Linked DNA regions of Homo sapiens. The protein of the gene in region 3 purifies or fractionates together with the protein of the main gene of each other region. This does not show direct contact. Each region holds a gene or a part of one and is shown on either strand. Other genes may lie near its edges.

Region 1 (7,024 bases), on a different chromosome or scaffold from region 3:
CTCAGGAGGTTGAGGCAGGAGAACCGCTTGAACCCAGGAGGCAGAGGTTACAGTAAGCTGAGGTTGCGCCACTGCACTCTAGCCTGGGCGACAGAGCTAGATTCTGTCTCAAAAAAAATAAACAAATAAATAAAAATAAAGAGCCTGGTGACTAAACTGCAGTCACAGCTACCTCTTATCTAACAATAACACTTAATTAACAAATATTTACTGGGCCCCTGTTATATTCCAGACACTGTGCTAGGTCTTGGGACAGGAACAAATAAGATAACCATGGTCCTAGCCTTCATGTTGTGAATAAGTAATATGCATTTTCCTACTGTTCATTTTGTTTCTTTTTAAATAATATTATGAAATTATATAAACACAAAATTTTAGAAAACTAAAGAAAATCTATCATTTTACTACCCTAACATAACAGAGCTCTCACTTTTATCTTTCTTCACATTGTCATAGTTTATATGGAATTTTGTTTTACTTCCTTTTTTCAGTTAATTTTTGTGTGTATGAAATGTGTTAAACACACAGAAGACTGAATGGTATACATATAAACATTCAAAGAAAAAAGATAAAATGAATACCCATGTATCTACCTCTGACATTAAGTTGTAGAACACTGCCTGAACTTGGAATCTCTGAGTTCCCCTCTAATTTATAGTCCTCTACTTTTTCCTCCATAAAACAATTTACTTGACTTGTGTGTTAATTATCCCTCTACTTTTTGCTATAGTTTTACTGCTTTTTTGTACTCCATAATGATGTTTAGGAAAAAATGAATAGCTAACATAAGCTTAGCATAAGGAAAGGACTGTGTTGCCATTTGTAGAAAGCAGCTCCCAGAAAAAGACAAGTTAAACATTTGAGTCTCTGGCTTTAGCTTCTTATAAGTTATTGAGAAAGTTTAGAAGAGCCCTTTCTTGTGAAATTATAAGGCAAAGTTGTGAGTCCTGTAAAATATACATCCCAGAGCATTTGGTGTGAGTCAGCTACAGGAGGAATGTGGGCTGGGGGAGTGAGCTGCTCAGTATTTTCAGTTTCAAAGCAAACTGTGACCTACCTCCAACTCTGAGGAATAGATTGAAGTCAGAAGGCTTCTTTCGGGGAAATGAGCATCTTCAGCCAATCCAGACAGCAGAACATGGAGAGGAGACTAAGAACTTCACCAGCAGATAGTCAACACAAGCCAAATACAGATACACTTGGGATCAGTTTCACTAGGCTATTTTATCCTGAGGTTTGAAAAGATGATACAATGGCAGCATGAAGCATGTGGATGACAGTCTTCAGTATGTCTGTCTCTTGAGTCACATCACTCTAATCTGGACCAGTATTTCCTTTAGCATTCTCTTTGGCTAATCCGTTTACTGTATCCGTTTCTTCTTTCTTGGTTGCCTCTCATTTTGTTGGAATATATCCTCCATTAATTTCTCAGAAAGATTTGTAAGAAGCGAATGTGAAAATGTGTGTCTGAAATGTCTGTGTTGCCCTCGTGTTTCATTGCTGGTTTAGATAGAATTTGTTACTTGTGGCCAGGTGCAGTGGCTCACGCCTGTAATCCCAGCACTTTGGGAGGCCAAAGCAGGCAGATCACTTGAGGCCAGGAGTTTGAGACCAGCCTGGCCAACATGGCAAAATCCCCTCTACTAAAAGTACAAAAATTAGCCAGGCATGGTGGCACATGCCTGTAATCCCAGCCATTCAGGAGGCTGAGGCACAGGAATCACTTGAACCTGGGAGGTGGAGGTTGCAGTGAGCTGAGATGACGCCACTGCACTCCAGCCTGGGTGACAGAGCGAGACTCCATCTCAAAAAAAAAAAGATAATATCTCCGTGCTGCAGGGTTCTAATGAAAAGACTGAAGTCATTCTGATTCCTGATCTTTTGTTTGTGACTTGTTTTGTATGTTCTTCTCTCCAAAATTGTTTAGAATCTTCTCTTTATCATGTCTTGGTATTGTGACATTGATGTAGGTTTCTTTTATCCATTGTATCTGGGCACTTGGTGGGCCTTTTCAGTGTGACAACTCATGTTTTTGAGTTCTCTGAAATTTTCTTGAATTATTTCTTTGATGATTGTATTAGGGTTCCTAGAAGGACAGAAATAAGAGGATAGATGTATATATAAAGGGGAGTTTATTAAGGAATATTGACTCATACAGTCACAAGGTAAGGTCTCATAATAGGCCATCTGCAAGCTGAGGAGCAGGGAATCCAGTCCGAGTCCCCAAACCTCAAAAGTAGGGAAGCCAGCAGTGCAGCTTTCAGTCTGTGGTTGAAGGTCCAAGAGTCCAAAAGCGAAGAACTTGGAGTCCGATGTTCAAGGGCAGGAAGCATCCAGCAGGGGAGAAAGATGTAGGCCAGAAGACTCAGCAAGTCTAGTCCTTCCATATTCCCCTGCTAGCTTTTATCCTAGCAGCTGATTAGATGGTGCCCACACAGATTGAGGGTAGGTCTGCCTCTCCCAATCCACTGACTCAAATGTTAATCCCCTTTGGCAACACCCTCAGACGCACCCAAGAACAGTACTTTGTATCCTTCAATCCAATCAAGTTGACACTCAATATTAACCATCACAATGATTTTTCTTTCTTCTATTTTGTTTGTTTGTTTGTTTGTTTTCTCTGAAATCCTTATTATATGGCCATTGAACTTCCTGGTCTGGTCTTTTATTGTTCTCTCATACTTTTCTTTTTCTCTCTTTGTCTGTCTTCTGTGTTATGGGAGATTTCCTCGCCTTTTATCTTTTAACTCTTCTTTTGACTTTTAATTATTGTCATGTTTTTAAATTTTCTGATTTTTTTAAAAAGCATTCTTGTATGTATATAATATCTTCTTAATTCTCTGAAGATATTATTTTTTATTTTTGTTTTTTCCCCTCCTTTGAGGTTTCTGTTTCCTCCAAATCTGTTTCTTTATTTTGTTCTTTATATTCCTAGTTAGAGGTTTTCTCAGAAATCAGATCTTCTGCTCACAATTAAGTTTAGGGAAACTAAAATCTGATTTTAAGCTTTAACACGTAGGTGGCGCCTATGTTTTTCATTGTCCCATAATCTGGATGGGCCATTTGTTGGGAGACTTGGTGTCAGTATCATTAGGTTTTTCTTCTAGGTTTAGTCAAATTTCCCAGAAGAAAAATTTTTTCATCTCATACTTGGTGACTCCAAAAGGAGTTAAAAAGGAGAAGAAGGCTGCATGAGAGAGGGTGTTAATAGCTAACGTTTAGTTTATATGGAGTTATTAAATGCCCTTGTTATGTATCACTTGGTATCCACTCTCTTAGAATTCCTTGCTATTCTCCAGTCTAGAGAATAGACCACCTTGTTTATCCAGAGGCTAAACCTCTAGACTTTGAGGTCCAAGAGGGTAGTTACTAACAGTGTGGAGTTGGGGGTTTGAGTTAGGCATCTAATTGCTTTCCATACAGATTTTACTCAGTTATTTTTATTTTATCATTTCTGTGAATCCCCAGATCCAGAGGTACCTAGTGCGATCAGCTCCTGAGCCTTTTTAGGAATCTGTGCATATTGTAACCTACTGCCTAAGTTTCAGCTTTCTAGTTAGGAACTCTCAAAATTTTGTTGTGTTTTGTCTACTTTCCTGGTATCTCTGGGTTTGTCTTTATATGAAGTTAATTTAATTTCAGTGGAATTTCGACAGAAAGTGAAATTAAGATGCATGTGTTCAATTCACCAGCTGAACCTGCAACATCCACTGTCTTTTGTATTATTTGTATCATCTTCAAAACCGTCTTTTTAAATGACTATAATAGTCAATTAAATGAAAGTTCCCTACTTCAGTTAGCTAGAACCGTAGTTTAAAATGCAGGTTGTTCTAATTATTTTTTCACATTGCTTTTCCTTCATTCAATTATTTATTTCCTAAGGCTAGATTCTTGGAATGTAAGTACTAGGCTAAATGGGTAAGAACATCTTAGGGCTCTTGAAAAATATTGCCAGATTTTGCTTTCTCAGACGTTTAAACCATTTTGCAGTGCCTCTCCCAACTCTGCTTTAAGTAAAATATTTATCTTTCTTACACTTACCTGGTTTTAAGTATAAAAATTTCTCTTATTGGAAATAGTTCTCTTGTGCTTAAGATTAAATATATGTTGCAGTTTTTGCTTCGGTCTGTGATCTCTTTAGTCTGTTCTCAGGGAATGACATTTATTGACTTTTCTCATGTCTTGGTCATTCATCTACAATTTAATTTTAACATAGGAAAGGAGCAAAGGCATGGCTAACATTTACTTTGAGTTTTAACACCATTTCCCTGGTGATACTTTTATCCAGTCTAGAAGTTTGAGGATTTTTTTGAAGTTTCTTCTGACTCTCTTGAATTTATGTTTAGTCTTGGGCAGATTTGCCTGTCCTTTTAAGAATGCTTTTTTGTTGTTGTTGTTAAGACAGGGTCTCACTCTGTTGCTCAGGTACAAGTGCAGTGGCGCAGTCATGGCTCATTGTAGCCTTGACCTCCCAGGTGATCCTCCCACCTCAGCCTCCTGAGCAGCTGGGACCACAGGCACAAGGCACCATGCCCAGCTAATTTTTGTAACTTTTGTAGAGACACGGTTCCACTATGTTGCCTCAGCTGGTTTCGAACTCCTGTGCTGAAACAATCCTCCCAACTTGGCCTCCCAAAGTGCTGTGATTATAGGCATGAGCCACTGCGCCTGGCCAAGAATGCTTATTTTTTAATGTGACTGAATACTTTTTCTTTGTGACTTTGTTTTTAATACCCATCTAGAATGAAATGTTTTCAGAGAGAGAATAGTTGTCTACAGATATGCTACACATGGATTAAATTTCCCCTCTTTCATTGATTGTTGTTTTAGGTGGTGCTTCCTACATTTATCCTAGAGAAGCGTTCCTTGCTGGAAATGTATGCAGACTTTATGTCTCATCCAGACCTATTTATAGCCATCACTAATGGAGCCACAGCTGAGGACAGAATGATTCGCTTTGTTGAGTACTACCTTACCTCATTTCATGAAGGCCGTAAGGGAGCCATTGCTAAAAAACCATACAATCCTATCATTGGAGAAACATTTCACTGTTCCTGGAAGATGCCAAAAAGCGAGGTAGCATCCAGTGTTTTTAGCAGTTCTTCCACCCAGGGAGTCACAAATCATGCTCCTTTATCGGGGGAGTCTTTGACCCAGGTGGGATCAGACTGTTACACAGTCAGATTTGTTGCTGAGCAGGTTTCTCATCATCCTCCAGTCTCAGGATTTTATGCAGAATGTACAGAGAGGAAGATGTGTGTAAATGCGCATGTCTGGACTAAGAGCAAGTTCTTAGGCATGTCAATAGGCGTGACAATGGTTGGAGAAGGTAAGTAGAAAAATTATTTTATATATATATATATATATACACACACACATATATATATGTATTTTTTTTTCCAAGCAGGAATGAAAGTTTACTTTAAAAGGCTTTAGAACAGGAAAGAAAGGAAAGTTCGCTTGGGAGAAACCCAAGCAGGCACGTGAAGGTCAAGTGCCTGTTTTATAATTTTTAATATCAAACTACAATCTTAAATTTAGGAACCCCAGATAAATATTAACTCTAAGTTTAAAATATTATGTTACTTTTTCGCTCCAATTTCTAGAGTGTTCCAGAATGCTTCTTGTGGGGATGGGAGGAGTATATCTATGAACTAATGTAAATTCTCTTTTTAAATTATTTTTTTCTGATTTTAAATATTTCTTTTCGTTTGTTTTCTTTTCTTTTTTTTGAGATGGAGTCTCGCTCTGTCATCCAGGCTGGAGTGCAATGGTGCTATCTCCGCTCACTGCAAACTCCGCCTCCCAGGTTCAAGCGATTCTCCTGCCTCAGACTCACGAGTAGCTGGGATTATGGCGCCTGCCACCATGCCACCACACCCAGCTAATTTTTATATTGTTAGTAGAGATGGGGGGTTTCACCATGTTGGTTAGGCTGGTCTCAAACTCCTGACCTCTGATGATCCACCCACCTCGGCCTCCCAAAGTGATGGGATTACAGGCATGAGCCACCGTGCCTGGCGATTTTAAATATTTCTTATCAAATATTTGGAAAACTAGAAAAGTACAAAGCAGAAAATAAAAGCTTCTGTAATGCCTGCATCCATATATATATAAATTTAATATTTTATACTTTTTCTGTGTGTGTATGTTCATACTTTTAGCCTTATAAAATTAGAATTAATAATATATATAGTTTTGAGTCCTGCTTTTTAAATTAAATATATTCATTTTATCATGTCATTGATAAAACATATTTTAATGACTGCATAATATTCTATGAAATAGATTTTCCATCCTTTTTTTTAATTTAATTTAATTTAATTTTTTTTTTTTTTTTTTTTTAGAAACAGGGTCTTGCTCTGTTGCCCAGGCTGAAGTGCAGTGGCATGGTCATAACTAACTGCAGCCTTGACCTACTCGGCTCAAGCCATCCTCCTGCCTCAGCCTCCCAAGTAGCTAGGACTACAGGCATGCACCACCATGCTAGGCTAATTTTTTTAATTTTTATTTTTAGAGACAGGGTCTCAATATGTTGCCCAGGCTGGTCATGAACTCCTGGGCTCAAGTGATCCTTTGGCCTCCACCTCCAGGCATTAGCCTGTAATCTCAGCACTTTAGGAGATGGAGGCCAGAGGTGCTATTCATAGAATATTTAGGTGCTATTCATAGAATATTTAAAAATATATGCTGATAAAAGTTAATTCTACTTCATCAGAAGATTATGAAAAAATTATTTTTGGAAATGCAGAGTTTTTTGACCAAGAATATGAAACAAAAACAAAAATCTCCACAGAAATTATTGAAGAGTTAATGAAAATATAATGATAGGAAAAAAATACCACTTTTATGTTAAAGGAAAACTCTTATGCAAAGAACACTATGCTCTGAATGTCATCTTACAGTGTAAGCATGGCATCATTAAGCCAATCTAATATTTTGAGATTGTGTTATAGTCGTTATGAAGAAAGTATCCTCTTTTTCAGTTTTCCTCATTTTTAAGTTCTGTTGTAATATGTCTTAC
Region 2 (7,941 bases), on a different chromosome or scaffold from region 3:
CCATCCTTTTGTCTTCCTTCCATCTCACTTTGTAGACTCCGTTGTCCAGGCTGGAGTATAGTGGCGCGATCTTGGCTCACTGCAACCTCTGCCTCCCAGGCTCAAGAGATTCTCATATCTCAGCCTCCCAAGTAGCTGGGATTACACACACGTGCCATGATGCCCGGCAAATTTTTTATGTATTTTTAGTAGAGACAGGGTTTCACCATGTTTGTTGGCCAGGCTGGTCTTAAACTCCTGACATATGATCTGTCCGCCTCAGCATCCCAAAGCGCTGGGATTACAGGCATGAGCCACTGCGCCCAGCTGAGAGATGGCTGTCTTAACGGACTACCCTGCTCTGGAATATCCCAAGATAAGACCCACTTCCACCCTTCCTCAGTGACTCAGATAAGACCCTCTCCATCCTTCCTCTCACGAAAGATCCCTTGTTTACCTGGATTACCCCAGGTCTCCTTCCTTTTGTTTTGCTTTGAGATGGAGTTTCACTCTTGTTGCTCAGGCTGGAGTGCAATGGCGTGATCTCGGCTCACTGCAACCTCCGCCTCCTGGGTTCAAGCAATTCTCCTGCCTCAGCCTTCCAAGTAGCTGGGATTACAGGCACCATGCCTGGCTAATTTTTGTATTTTTAGTAGAGACAGGGTTTCACCATGTTGGCCAGGCTGGTCTCGAACTCCTGACCTCAAATGATTCCGCCCTCCACCCCCACCTCGGCCTCCCAAAGTGCTGGGATTGCAGGTGTGAGCCACCGAGCCCCGCCTGTCCTTCCTTTCCTTTTTTTTTTCTTTTGAGATGGAGTCTCACTCTGTTGCTCAGGCTCGAGTGCAGTGGCATGATCTTGGCTCACTGCAACCTCTTCCTCCTGGGTTCAAGCGATTCTCCTGCCTCAACCTCCCGAGTGGCTGGGACTACAGGTGTGCACTACCACGCTTGGCTAATTTTTGTATTTCTAGTTGAGATGGGGTTTCACTATATTGGCCAGGCTGGTCTCGAACTCCTGACCTCATGATCCACCCGCCTCAGCCTCCCAAAGTACTGGGATTACAGGTATGAGCCACCGGGCCTGGCTCTTCCTTTTCTTTGATACATTCCTCATTAATAAGCATTCTTCCTATTGCAACAGTCTGAACAAAATGATTTGATTTATAGTCCAGTGCATCTCACCTTTCACACCCTTCTCCTTTATTCCCCTTTTCCTCATCACACAGAATTTTACAATGAGATTTCTGCTTGTGTCAATCTATCAGAAATTCAGCTGACAGGGTGCATGACACTGCGAATGAATTTAATGCCTTTGAACTGAACACACATGGTCCTGACTTAATGATGGTTTGACTTAGGATTTTTAGACTTTAGGATGGGTTTAGTTTTTCTGTAGGTAACCCCATTGTAAGTTGAGGACCATCTGTACTTAAAAATTATACGCTGTATTTTATGTATTTTTTTTCTTTTTTTTTTTTGAGACAGAGTTTCACTCTTGTTGCCTAGGCTGGAGTGCAGTGGCGCGATCTTGGCTCACCGCAACCTCCACTTCCCAGGTTCAAGCGATTCTCCTGCCTCAGCCTCCCAACTAGCTGGGATTACAGGCATGCGCCACCACACCCGGCTAATTTTGTATTTTTAGTAGAGACGGGGTTTCTTCATGTTGGTCAGGCTGGTCTCGAACTCCCGACCTCAGATGAGCCACCCACCTCGGCCTCCCAAAGTGCTGGGATTACAGGTGTGAGCCACCGCGCCCGGCCTTTATGTGCATTTTACTACAATTAAAAATTCATCTTGCAGAGAAATGCAATGGAAATAATTTATTCAAAACAATTAGAACCCCTACTATGTGCTGGGTGATAGGTTGGGGTTGGGGAAATGGGTGGGGCCTGAGTTAGGAAATGAGTAAGACCTGCTTCCTGTGGTCCTGGAGCTCCCAGCCTTGCTGCGGAGACAAACCCATAATCTGTTAATTGAGCTCCATAATTCCAGGTGACACACATTACAGTACACATGCGTAGCGCCTGATTTCAGTCAGGATGCAAAGGGCTTTGAATGCTACACTAAGGACTTTGGATTTTGGTAATTGGGAGTTATGAATGGTTTTAAAGCCAGTGTATGACACGAACAGATTCATTGCAATTCCTAAAGTCTTAGCACCAGACATTTGACATTGTAGGGTGTCAAAGACTGATGGCAGTGACAGGCTGGGCACCATGGCTCACACCTGTAATCTCAGCACTTTGAGAGATGAGGTGGGAGGATCGCTTAAGGCCAGAAGTTCAAAACCAGCCTGGGCAACATAGAGACCCCCATCTTTAGAAAAAATTTTAAAAATTAGCTGAGGCTCACCCAGCAGTTTGAGACTGTAGTGAGCTATGATCACAGTACTGCACCCCAGCCTGATGGATTGAGACCCCATTTCTTCTTTTTTTTGTTTTTTTGAGACGGATCTGCTGCTCAGGCTGGAGTATGGTGGTGGGATCTTCTTGACTCACTGCAACCTCTACCTCCTGGGTTCAAGTGATTCTCCTGCCTCAGCCTTCCAAGTATCTGGGATTACAGGCACCTGCCACCACGCCCATTTAATTTTTGTATATATATGTATATATATATTTTTCGAGACGAAGTCTCACTGTGTTGCCCAGGCTGGAGTGCTGTGGTGCGGTCTCGGCTCACTGCAACCTCCGCCTTCTGGGTTCAAGTGATTCTCCTGCCTCAGCCTCCTGAGTAGCTGGGACTACAGGCGTGTGCCACCACGGCTGGCTAATTTTTTGTATTTTTAGTAGAGATGGGGTTTCACCATGTTGGCCAGGATGGTCTTGAACTCCTGACCTCAGGTGATCCGCCTGCCTCCCAAAGTGCTGGGATTACAGGCCTGAGCCACCGTGCCCAGCCAAGACCCCATCTCTTTAAAAAAAATAGCTGTGACAGCTTTAATTTTAAAAAGTTGATCCCCTGTAAAGTAGGCTCATAATTATGTTTATCTTATTAAATATATTCATGCTCAGGAAAGCAAGAGAGTGTTAACTTTGGTTAAGTCTATTGGGAAGACATAAACACAGATCTGTCAATTGCTCTATATGAGATGTGCATGGAACACTTTGAGAGCTCAGACAGGAGAATCTACCCTGCCTGAGAGGTTTGAGAAGGACCTCCAGAAGGAAGTGGACTGCAGAAAAAAAAAAGAGGGAAGGGAAGCTGGAGCATAAAGATGGAGGAAAAGAGTCATGGGCAATAAGGCCAGGGCCAGATGGCAGGGGGCTTTGTGTGCCAAATTGAGGGGCTTGAATCTCCTCCCCACAGGTGATGGTGAGCCATCAAAGGCCCGGTTAATAAGAATGATGATGATGAAATAGCGCTTATGGCTTGGTGCGGTGGCTTACACCTCTAATCCCAGCACTTTGGGAGGCTGAGGAGAGAGGATCACTGAAGTCTAGAAGTATGAGACAAATCTGGGCAACTTAGTGAGACCTCCCCCACAACCCCATAGCTACAAAAAATAAAAATTAGCAAGGTGAGGTGGCACACACCTGTAGTCCCAGCTACTTGAGAGGCTGAAGTGGGAAGATCCCTTGAGTCCAGGAGGTTGAGGCTGTGGTCATGCCACTGCACTCCAGCCTGGGTGACAGAGAGAGACCCTGTCTCAAAAACAAAAACAAAAACAAAAACAAAAAAAAAAAGAAAAGAAAAAAGAAAGAAATAGTGCTTACTACACGCAAGGCACTGTTCTAAGAGGTTTACCAATATTGACTCATTTAACCCTGACACTTACCATGGTTAGATAGTTTGGATCACTTTAGTGGCTACGTGGAGACCAGTCTGGACACATGTTGTGGTGCCGGATAAAGACGAAGGGATGTGCCTGTAGTCCCAGTAACTCAGGAGGCTAAGGTGGCAGGATCACTTCAGCCAGGGAGGGAGAGGCTGGAGCTGAGATTGTGCCACTGCACTCCAGCCTGGGCAACAGAGCAAGACCTTGTCTCTCTTTTTTTTTTTTTTTTTGAGATGGAGTTTTGCTCTATGTGGCCCAGGCTGGAGTGCAATGGCTTGGTCTCGGCTCACTGCAACCTCTGCCTCCCAGGTTCAAGCGATTCTCCTGCCTCAGCCTCCCAGTAGCTGGGATTACAGGCACGTGCCACCACGCCTGGCTAATTTTTTTTTTTATTTTTAATAGAGACGGGGTTTCTCCACCTTGGTCAGGCTGGTCTCGAACTCCCAACCTCAGGTGATCCGCCTGCCTCGGCCTCCCAAAGTGCTGGGATTACAGGCGTGAGCCACCGCGCCTGGCCAAGACCTCGTCTCAAACCAAAAAGAAAAAAAAGAGGAAGGGAGGAAAGGAGGTGATGGCTTTTAGAATTAATTAATTTGTGTGCTTTCAGTTCTTTTATATCTGTAGGTTGCTTGATGGCCCAGACTATCACGGCAAAGGAGTCATTTGCATTTGAAGAGAATGTGTCTTCCGCAGTTGTTAGGTGGAGTTTCTATAAATATCATCAGGTCAAGTTAGTTGGTAGTGCTGTTCAAGTCTTTTATAAATTGATAGTTTTCCAGCTATTTTACGGATTTGTCTATTTCTCCTTTCACTGCTATATCTTCCAAATTGATTCAGAGAGCTGCAGTCAGGAGCGTACTATTGCAGAGAGGATAGAATGTTTGGGACCAGAAGAAACGTTTTATCTCTTTAAATTTACTCTCGTACGCAGAAAACAAAATACAAATAAACTACGTATCCCAGCAAGCCTAGTGGAACTCAGGGCAAATGCAAATAAGGGGGGGGGCTGGGCATTCGGCTACGCCCCTTTTCTGGGTTGGCAAGGCAACTGATACAGAAGCCAGCCAATCGGTGATATAGTCACCTGCAGGGGCGGGGGCTTGACGAAAGCCAATAGGACGCAGGGCAGATGGCTCTTCGGGCCAATGGGTTGGGCGACGGGGCGGGCTTTTGATGAAGGGTCGTTGGTGGGAAAGATGGCGGCGACTCTGGGACCCCTTGGGTCGTGGCAGCAGTGGCGGCGATGTTTGTCGGCTCGGGATGGGTCCAGGATGTTACTCCTTCTTCTTTTGTTGGGGTCTGGGCAGGGGCCACAGCAAGTCGGGGCGGGTCAAACGTTCGAGTACTTGAAACGGGAGCACTCGCTGTCGAAGCCCTACCAGGGTGAGGCGCCCAGGGTGAGGTGGTCGTGCAGTGGGGCGGGCTTCGGGACTTGATTTCAGGGGTAGAGGCGGGGGCGGCGAAGGGCTTCGTGGCCCGGAGGAAACTGCTGGCGGTGGTGGGGCCCACGGAGACTCCCTCCGCGTTTGGGAGCCACAGGTCTGAAAGGCAGGAGTTAGGTGTGCCTGCCAAGCTCTGGAAGTTTCCAGTAGGTAAAGGCAGGGCTGTCGGGTGCCACTAGTACTAGGCCTGGAGTTAGACAGGAGGAGTTTGGGAAGGGGAGAGAATTGAGAATGGTGAGGAGTGATTGAGGGCTACTAGCAATGAGCCAGTCTCCAGATGGACCTGTGGATGTGCTAGAAATAAAGCAGGAGGAAGAACTGGGGTAGAACTTGAACGAAATGAGAAGATGATAAATTTATGTTGCTGGGTAGAACCACCTTCTCTTCTCCAGCCTAGGGGCCCTGTTGGTGAAAGAGGTTAGGGTTCACAGAACTCTAAGCACAGCTTATCAGCCAGAAAATTAATGCAGTTAGCCACAAAACGATGACAAACCAGTGCAGATGGCTTAACTAACACAAGTCTTTCCCCACTAAGGCGTAGGTAGTGGGACAGAAAACAATTCAAAGTGCAAGAGTATACTCTACTACTAAGGGTAATCATTTATTCACTTACATGCCTGGAGTGCCTCTGTGCTGTCTCTTTGCTAATGCTTATGGGTTTGCAGACACAAAGTTTTCATTCTTAAAGAAGTTTATAGGTGAGGGTACAGGGAGTAGCTTCACACTTTAAGGATTGTTTAAAGAAAGAATGTGACGGCTGGGGCGGTGGCTCACGCCTGTAATCTCCGCACTTTGGGAGGCCGAGGTGGGCGGATCACGAGGTCAGGAGATTGAGACCATCCTAGCTAACACGGTGAAACCCCATCTCTGCTGAAAATACAAAAAAATTAGCCAGGTGTGGTGGCGGGCGCCTGTAGTCCCAGCTACTCAGGAGGCTGAGGCAGGAGAATGGCGTGAACCCGGGAGGCAGAGCTTACAGTGAGCCGAGGTCATGCCACTGCACTTCAGCCTGGGCAACAGAGCGAGACTCCATCTCAAAGAAAAAAAAAAAAGGAAGAATGTGACTAAGCCCCGGAGGCCTGAGGGTCAAACTCTTTTTATTTATATTTATATATTTTTAGAGACAAGGTCTTGTTCCGTTGCCTAGGCTGGAGTGCAGTGGCACAATCATGGCTCATGCAGTTTCAATCTCCTGGGCTCAAGCGATGCTCCCAACTCAGCCTCCTGAGTAGCTAGGACTATGGACAAGGACTACCACACCTGGCTAATTTTTTTTTTGGTAAAGACAGGGTCTTTCTATGTTGCCCAGGCTGGTCTCAAATTGCTGACCTCAAGATGCCCTCCCTCCACATCATCTCAAAGTGTGGGGATTACATGGGTGAGCCACTGCACCTGGCCTGTCAAACTCTTTTTGATATAACTCAGGAAAATTTTTTTCTTTTACGATGCTGAAGTTTACTCACATATAAAACGGGAAGAATGGATGTGAGCTATGGTTACTGTAACATGCATAAAGTGAGAGTTCTGATGTGCTTTGGGGTCCTTACCTGATAAAGGCCTTGTGAAAGCTGTAGAGATGGTAAGATTCATGACTGAGAGAAGATAGGAGATTGAGTGACATTAAAGGGGGAAAAAGATGATGGCTCAGCTTTCAGAGGCTCTGTGGTGGCTGCTTTCTGAATGGATTGGTGTTGAAAAGTATGAACTGATCTACTTCCTTCCTGTAGGTGTGGGCACAGGCAGTTCCTCACTGTGGAATCTGATGGGCAATGCCATGGTGATGACCCAGTATATCCGCCTTACCCCAGATATGCAAAGTAAACAGGGTGCCTTGTGGAACCGGGTGGTAAGAATCTTTCTCCCTCCTGTGTTGGTGACCCAGAAAGGCCTAAAAAGTTCAGCAGTGGCATACTGATTTAATTTTACTGTCTATCCCCCTGGTATTCTATCTTCTGTGGATATCAAGGATCTTTATTTTTGAGATTATTCTGACCTTGATAATAAATAAATCAGGTATTTAGGAAAATGCTCTCTATTTAATTATAGCAAATAATTCATTTTTTTTTCCTGAAATGTCGTTAATTCCTGATTGGCCCAATAGTACTACTTCTTAGGGTTTAATAATAACTTAACTCCTGCTTAACCACTTTGTAAGAAGATTATAAGAAGACCAGAGTGCAGTGGCACAATCATAGCTCACTGCAGCCTCAAACTCCTGGGCTTAAGGGCTCCTCCTGCCTCAGCCTCCTGAGTAGCTGAGACTACAGGCATGTGCCACTGCACCTGGCTAATTTTTAAAACGTTTTTTGTAGAGATGGGGTCTTGCTATGTTGCCCAGGCTGGTCTCAAACTCTTGGTCTCAAACAATCCTCCTGCCTTGGCCTCCCAAAGGTCAGGGATTATAGGTGTGAGCCACCGGTCCTGGTTGAGAGTACTCTTAAATTGATCCCAAACCTTATCCCAGCATCCCCATCTTGTTATTTCAATTTGAAGAGTCTGATATAAAATTTTATTTTCATGTGAAAGCCACTCTGAGCTGTTGGTCATTTTATTTGTCCTTCTCTGGACCTTTTCTAGCTGCATTGTCTTCCTTGAGGTATGGCGACAAGAAGTGAATGCAGTATTCCTGGTGTGGCTGCACTGTGATTTTGTACAAGTGTAAGATGATGCTTTCTTTTCTGTTTCCAGGGCTTTCTAAATCTTTTACGACCAGTTTACTTTTGGGCATGACTCTGGCATCCT
Region 3 (7,024 bases):
GCCTCAGCCTCCCCAGTAGCTGGGACTACAGGCCTGTGCCACCACGCCTGACTGATTTTTAAATTTTTTTTTTTTTCTTGAGACAGAGTTTCGCTCTTGTTGCCCAGGCTGAAGTGCAATGGCGCGATCTCGGCTCACTGCAACCTCCGCCTCCCGAGTTCAAGCGATTCTCCTGCCTCAGCCTCCTGAGTAGCTGGGATTACAGGCATGCGCCACAACACCCGGCTAATCTTTGCATTTTTAGTAGAGATGGGGTTTCTCCATGTTGGTCAGGCTGGTCTTGAACTCCCAACCTCAGGTGATCCGCCTATCTCGGCCTCCCAAAGTGCTGGGATTACAGGCGTGAGCCACCATGCCCAGCCTTAAATTTGTTTTTGTAGAGATGGGGTTTCACTATGTTTACCAGGGTGGTGACGATCTCCCCCATCAGCCTCCCAAATTGCTGGGATTACAGGTGTGCACCACCATGCCTGGCTATGGTCAACTGATTTGGACAAGGATGCTGCTATGAGCTCAACTGTATCCCCAGTACCTGAGAATGTGACTGTATTTAGAAGTAGGGTTTTTTTGTTTTTGTTTTTTGTTTTTTTACACAGAGTCTCGCTCTATCACCCAGGCTGGAGTACAATGGCTCGATCTCAGCTCACTGCAACCTCTGCCTCCCGGGTTCAAGTGATTCTCCTGCCTCAGCCTCCCGAGTAGTTGGGATTACAGGGGCCCACCACCCTGCCCGGCTAATTTTTTTTTTTTTTTTTTTTTTTTGAGACGGAGTTTCGCTCTTTTTGCCCAGGCTGGAGTGCAATGGCATGATCTCGGCTCACTGCAACCTCCACCTCCCGAGTTCAAGTGATTCTCCTGCCTCAGTCTCCCTAGTAGCTGGGATTACAGGCACGCACCACCATGCTTGGCTAATATTGTATTTTTTAGTAGAGACAGGGTTTCTCCATGTTGGCCAGGCTGGTCTCAAACTCCCATCCTCAGGTGATCCGCCCACCTCGGCCTCCTAAAGTGCTAGGATTACAGGTGTGAGCCACCGCACTCGGCCGAACTAATTTTTGTATTTTTAGTAGAGACAGGGTTTCACCATGTTGGCCAGGCTGGTTTCAAACTCCTGACCTCAGGTGATTCGCCCCCCTCGGCCTCCCAAAGTGCTGGGATTATAGTCGTGAGCCACCTCTCCTGGCAGAAGTAGGGTCTTTAGAGAGGTAATTAAGTTAAGGTGAGGTCCTTAGGGTGGGTCCTAATCCAACATGACTGATGTCCTTATAAAGAGAAGAGATTTGGACACAGAGACACGGACAGAAGGAAGACCAAGAGCAGACACAGGAAGAAGATGCCACCTGCAAGCCAAGTAGAAAGACCTGGAACAGGCCGGCTATGGTGGCTCACGCCTGTAATCCCAGCACTCTGGGAGGCCAAGGCGGGTGGATCACGAGGTCAAGAGTTCAAGAGCAACCTGGCCAAGATGGTGAAATCCCATCTCTACTAAAAATACAAAAAAATTAGCAGGGCATGTTGGTGGGCACCCGTAATCTCAGCTACTGGGGAGGCTGAGGCAGAGAATTGCTTGAACTCGGGGAGGCGGAGGTTGCAGTGAGCCGAGATCGCGTCTCTGCACTCCAGTCCAGCCTGGGTGACAGAGCGAGACTCCGTCTCAAAAAAACAAACAAACAAACAAAAACCTGGAACAGATCCTTCCCTCACAGCCTCAGAAGGAACCAACCCCGCTAACACTTTGATCTTGGTACCACCCAGTCTGTAATACCTTGTCATGGAAGCCCTAGCAAATTAATACAAATGCTAACACCATCTCATGAGGCAAACAACAGTCTTTAAAAAAAACCTTTTTTTGTTTTTTTTTTTGTTGTTGTTTTTGAGACAGGGTTTTTTGCTCTGTCACCCAGCCTGGAGTGCAGTGGCACGATCTCGGCTCACTGTAACCTCCGTCTCCCGGGTTCAAGTGATTCCCCAGCCTCAGCCTCTCGAGTAGCTGGGATTACAGGTGTGCACCACCATACCTGGCTAATTTTTGTATTTTTAGTAGAGACAGGGTTTCGCCATGTTGGCCAGGCTGGTCTCGAACTCCTAACCTCAAGTGATCTGCCCACCACCAGCCTGGCCAACATGGCGAAACCCCATCTTTGCTAAAAATACAAAAATTAGCCAGGCATGGAAGCGCATGCTTGTAGTCCCAGCTATTTGGGAGTCTGAGCCAGGAGACTCGCTTGAATCCGGGAGGCGGAGGTTGCAGTGAGATGAGATTGTGCCACCACACTCCAACCTGGGGAACAGAGTGAGACTCTATGTCCAAAAAAAAAAAAAAGAAAAATTAAAATTAAATTAAATAAGATATGCAAATGGCCAAAGAGCATATCAAAAGACATTCAAAATCGGCTGGGCGCGGTGGCTCACACCTATAATCCCAGCACTTTGGGAGGCCAAGACAGGTGGATCACCTGAGGTTGGGCATTCGAGACCAGCCTGGCCAACATGGTGAAACCCCATCTCTACTAAAAATACAAAAAAATTAGCCAGGCCTGGTGGCAGGTGCCTGTAATCCCAGCTACTTGGGAGGCTGAGGCAGAAGAATTGCTTGAACCCGGGAGATGGAGGTTGCAGTGAGCCACGATCACACCATTGCACTCCAGCCTGGGTGACAGAGCGAGAGTCTGTCTAAAAAAAAAAAAAAAAAAAAAAAAAGAAAGATATTCAAAATCATTAGCCATTACGGAAATGCAAATCAGGACCACAGTGAGATACCACTACACACCCACGAGGGTGGCTATTTTAAAAACCCATAAACCCCCAAAATGAACAGTAACAGGTGTTGATGAGGATGTGGGGAAATCAGAATTCTCAGACAGTACTAGTGAGAATGTACAATGTTGCAACGGCTTTGGGAAAGTCTGGCAGTTCCTCAAAATGTTAAACATAGTTACCACGTGACCCAGAAACTCTACTTCTCAGCATATACCCAGAGCAATGGAAACACATCCTCACATCAACTTGCCAGGAATGTCCACAGCCGCTCGATTCACAGTAGCCAAAGGTGGAAAGAACCCAAATGCCTGTCAGCAGATGAATTAACGCACAAAATGTGTTCCTTCCATACATAGAACATGATTCAGCCATAAAAAGGAAGGAAGCACTGATCCATGTTGCAGTGTGTGTGAACCCCAAAAACATGATGCCTAAGTGAGAGAAGCCGGACACAAAAGGCCACAGAATGTGAGATTCCACTGACATGAAATGCCCAGAACAGGCAAATCCATAGAGACAGGAAGCAGGTTGGTGGCTGTCAGGGATTGGGGGAGGGGAATGGGAAGTGACTGCTGATGGGGACGTGGGTTTTCTTTTGGGAAGGTGAAAATGTTCTAAAATAATGTTCTAAAATGGATCGTGGTGATCAATGTACAACTCTGTGAATTTACAAAAAAATCATCAAATTGGCTGGGCGCGGTGGCTCACGCCTGTAATCTCAGCACTTTGGGAGGCCGAGGCGGGCGGATCACGAGGTCAGGAGATCTAGACCATCCTGGCTAACACGGTGAAACCCCATCTCTACTAAAAATACAAAAAATTAGCCAGGCGTGGTGGCGGGCGCCTGTAGTCCCAGCTACTCGGGAGGCTGAGGCAGGAGAATGGCGTGAACCTGGGAGGCAGAGCTTGCAATGAGCTGAGATCGCGCCACTGCACTCCAGCCTGGGCGACAGAGCGAGACTCCATCTCAAAACAAACAAACAAACAAACAAAAACATCAAATTGTACACTTTAAATAGGTGGATTGTAAAATACATGAATTATATATCAATAAAGCTGTTTTTAAAAATTATTTATTATTATTATTATTATTGAGATGGAGTCTCGCTCTGTGGCCCAGGCTAGAGTGCAGCGGTGTGATCTCAGCTCACTGCAACCTCTACTTCCTGGGTTCAAGTGATTCTCATGCCTCAGCCTCCCAAGTAGCTGGGAATACAGGGGTGCACCACCATGACCAGCTAATTTTTGTATTTTAGTAGAGACGGGGTTGCACCATGTTAGCCAGGTGGTTTCGAACTCCTGACCTCAAGTGATCCACTGGCCTCAGTCTCCTGCCTTGACTTCCCAAAGTGCTGGAATTACAGACGTGAGCTGCCACGCCCGGCCAGCTATTTTTATTTTAATTTAATTTTATTTTTTTTGAGACATGGTCTCACTCTGCCACCCAGGCTGGAGTGTGGTGGTGTGATCACAGCTCACTGCAGCCTCAGCCTCCCCAGGCTCGGGCAATCCTCCCACCTCAGTCTCTCAAGTAGCTGGGATTACAGGCACGTGCCACCACTCCTGGCTAATTTTTTATAGAGATGGGGTCTCACCATGTTGCCCAGGCTGGTCTTAAACTGCTGAGCTCAAGCAATCCACCCACCTTGGCCTCCCAAAATGTTGGGATTACAGGTGTGAACCACCACGCCTGGCCAGCAAAGCTGTTTTTAAAGAAAGTGTTCACAATTTAACAAACTAAAGCCATGCCTTTCAAACTTTGGAAGAGAACCCTCTGCAGAAATATAATAAGACATGAAGAATCAGGAGAGTTTGTCTTTCTGCAACTCTCTGTCCTTCATCCTTTTGCAGTTGGCCCTGGGTGAATGTCCTGGGGGGACATGGGGAATGCCTTCTGTTCTCAAAAGCCTTAGTCATTAGGAGGCTGAGGTGGGAACACTGCTTGAGGCTGGGAGTTCGAGACCAGCCTCGGCAATGTAGTGACACCATGTCTCTAAAAAAAAAAAAAAAAAAAAAGGATGTGATTTTTAAGTTTCTTTTTTAATTTTTAGTTTATTTTTTATAGAGAAGAGGTGTCTTGGGAGGCTGAGGCAGGTGGATCACCTGAGATCAGGAGTTCCAGACCAGCCTGGCCAACATGGGGAAACCCCATCTCTACTAAAAATACAAAAAATTAGCTGGGTTTGGTGGCGGGTGCCTGTAATCCCAGCTACTCGGGAGGCTGAGGTAGGAGAATCACTTGAACCCGGGAGGCAGAGGTTGTAGGGAGCTGAGATTGCGCCACTGCAATCCAGCCTGGGCGACAGAGTGAAACTCTGTGTCAAAAATAGTAATAATAATAATAAAATAATTAAATAATGTTTTTATTTATTTATTTATTTATTTTTTGAGACGGAGTCTCGCTCTGTCGCCCAGGCTGGAGTGCAGTGGCGCAATCTCGGCTCACTGCAAGCTCCGCCTCCCGGGTTCATGCCATTCTCCTGCCTCAGCCTCCCGAGTAGCTGGGACTACAGGCGCCCACCACCACACCTGGCTAATTTTTCGTATTTTTAGTAGAGACGGGGTTTCACTGTGTTAGCCAGCATGGTCTCGATCTCCTGACCTAGTGATCCACCCACCTCGGCCTCCCGAAGTGTTGGGATTATAGGTGTGAGCCACTGCACCCGGCCAATAATTTTTTTTTAAATGAAAAGACAGGCCAGGTGCAGTGGCTCACACCTGTAATCCCAGCACTGGGAGGCCAAGGCGGGCGGATCACGAGGTCAGGAAATTGAGGCCATCCTGGTTAACATAGTGAAACCCCGTCTCTACTAAAAATACAAAAAAAAAATTAGCAGGGCATGTTGGCGGGCACCTGTAGACCCAGCTACTCGGGAGGCTAAGGCAGGGGAATTGCTTGAACCCAGGAGGCAGAGGTTGCAGTGAGTGGATACCGCGCCATTGCACCCCAGCCTTGGCGACAGAGCTAGACTCTGTCTCAAAAAAAAAAAAAAAAAAAAAAAAAAAAGAAAGAAAAGACACCAGTTAGCCAGGTTCAGGTCTGAGAGGGGAGGCAGGGCTCTAATCTGAGGATCTAAGGGGCAGGCAGGACCCTATTGGGAGGGTCTGAGGGAGGGGCACAGTTATGCCCTGGGGACTGAGGGGTGTTCCACCCCATCTTGGGGGGCTGAGGTGAGACCTACCATACTCTGGGCATCTGGGGAGACGGTGCTTTGCCCCGGGGTTTTGGCGGATAGAGACAGGGCCCTACCCCTGGGGCTCTGGGCGAGGGGTTGAGGTGGAGGTAGGGCCCCGCCATTAGGGGTCTGAGGTGAGGAGACTGAGTTCTGCCTTGAGCAGGACTGAGGGGGCTGAGCTTACCTTCCTGCCCAGTGCGGACGGCTGGGTGGTCTGAGGTCCTATGGGAGGTCTGTCTTTGCCACTGCCTGGGCCCTGGCCAGCCAGGTCACCTCCTTGGAAGACCCTGAAGCTGCCTCTTCAGCCTTCCCTCACCCCACCCTCCCATCTCTCACCCACCTCACCCTTAAGGAGAGAGCCCCACACCTGCTCCCCACAATGTCTCAGGGCAGGCGGGACACCCCCTGGATGAAGTTGTGTCTGAGAACACGGGGATAATTGTCTAGTGAGTTTGACACAAGCCGGGGTGCGAGAGTGGCGCGATGGTCTCCAGGAGACCCCAGATTTGCAGCTGTGACTTTGCCCAGAGAGCCCGCCTGTTTCTGCCACCTCAAGAAAGTCACCTCCCCTCTCATGCCTTCACTTTCCTGCCTGCAAAGGGTTTAAAACTTCTGCTGCCCAGGCGCAATGGCTCACTCCTGTAATCTCAACACTTTGGGAGGCCAAGGCAGGTGGATCACTTGAAGGCAGGAGTTTGAGACCAGCCTGGCCAACATGGTGAAACCCCATCTCTACTAAAAATACAAAACTTAGCCGGGCATGGTGGGGCGCACCTGCAATCCCAGCTACTCGGGAGGCTGAGGCAACAGAATCGCTTGAGCCTGGGAGGCAGTGGTTGCAGTGAGCCGAGACCTTCCACTGCACTCCAGCCTTGGCAACAGAGGGAGACCCTGTCTCAAACAAAACAAAATAAAACAAAACAGCCGGGAACGGTGGCTCACGCCTGTAATCCCAGCACTTTGGGAGGCCGAGGCGGGTGGATCACAGGGTCAGGAGATCCAGACCATCCTGGCTAACACAGTGAAACCCGGTCTCTACTAAAAATAGAAAAATTAGCCAGGCATGACGGCGGGCGCCTGTAGTCCCA

The links.
Region 1: the proteins of PLVAP (region 3) and OSBPL11 purify together in Homo sapiens (affinity purification with mass spectrometry; 3 studies listed by BioGRID and IntAct, with this or other methods). This does not show direct contact.
Region 2: the proteins of PLVAP (region 3) and LMAN2L purify together in Homo sapiens (affinity purification with mass spectrometry; 3 studies listed by BioGRID and IntAct, with this or other methods). This does not show direct contact.

Annotation. Positions count from the first base shown.
Region 1 is NC_000003.12:125,550,486-125,557,509, reverse strand, and holds part of OSBPL11 (oxysterol-binding protein-related protein 11), read left to right. Parts: intron 1-4,830; coding exon 4,831-5,329; intron 5,330-7,024. UniProt on the Homo sapiens protein: Plays a role in regulating ADIPOQ and FABP4 levels in differentiating adipocytes and is also involved in regulation of adipocyte triglyceride storage. Weakly binds 25-hydroxycholesterol. Interacts with OSBPL9 to function as lipid transfer proteins.
Region 2 is NC_000002.12:96,737,053-96,744,993, reverse strand, and holds the start of LMAN2L (VIP36-like protein isoform 2 precursor), read left to right. Parts: upstream 1-4,929; 5' UTR 4,930-4,953; coding exon 4,954-5,140; exon of another isoform or gene 5,141-5,154; intron 5,155-6,926; coding exon 6,927-7,045; intron 7,046-7,776; exon of another isoform or gene 7,777-7,857; intron 7,858-7,941. UniProt on the Homo sapiens protein: May be involved in the regulation of export from the endoplasmic reticulum of a subset of glycoproteins. May function as a regulator of ERGIC-53.
Region 3 is NC_000019.10:17,367,327-17,374,350, forward strand, and holds part of PLVAP (plasmalemma vesicle-associated protein), read right to left. Parts: intron 1-7,024. UniProt on the Homo sapiens protein: Endothelial cell-specific membrane protein involved in the formation of the diaphragms that bridge endothelial fenestrae. It is also required for the formation of stomata of caveolae and transendothelial channels.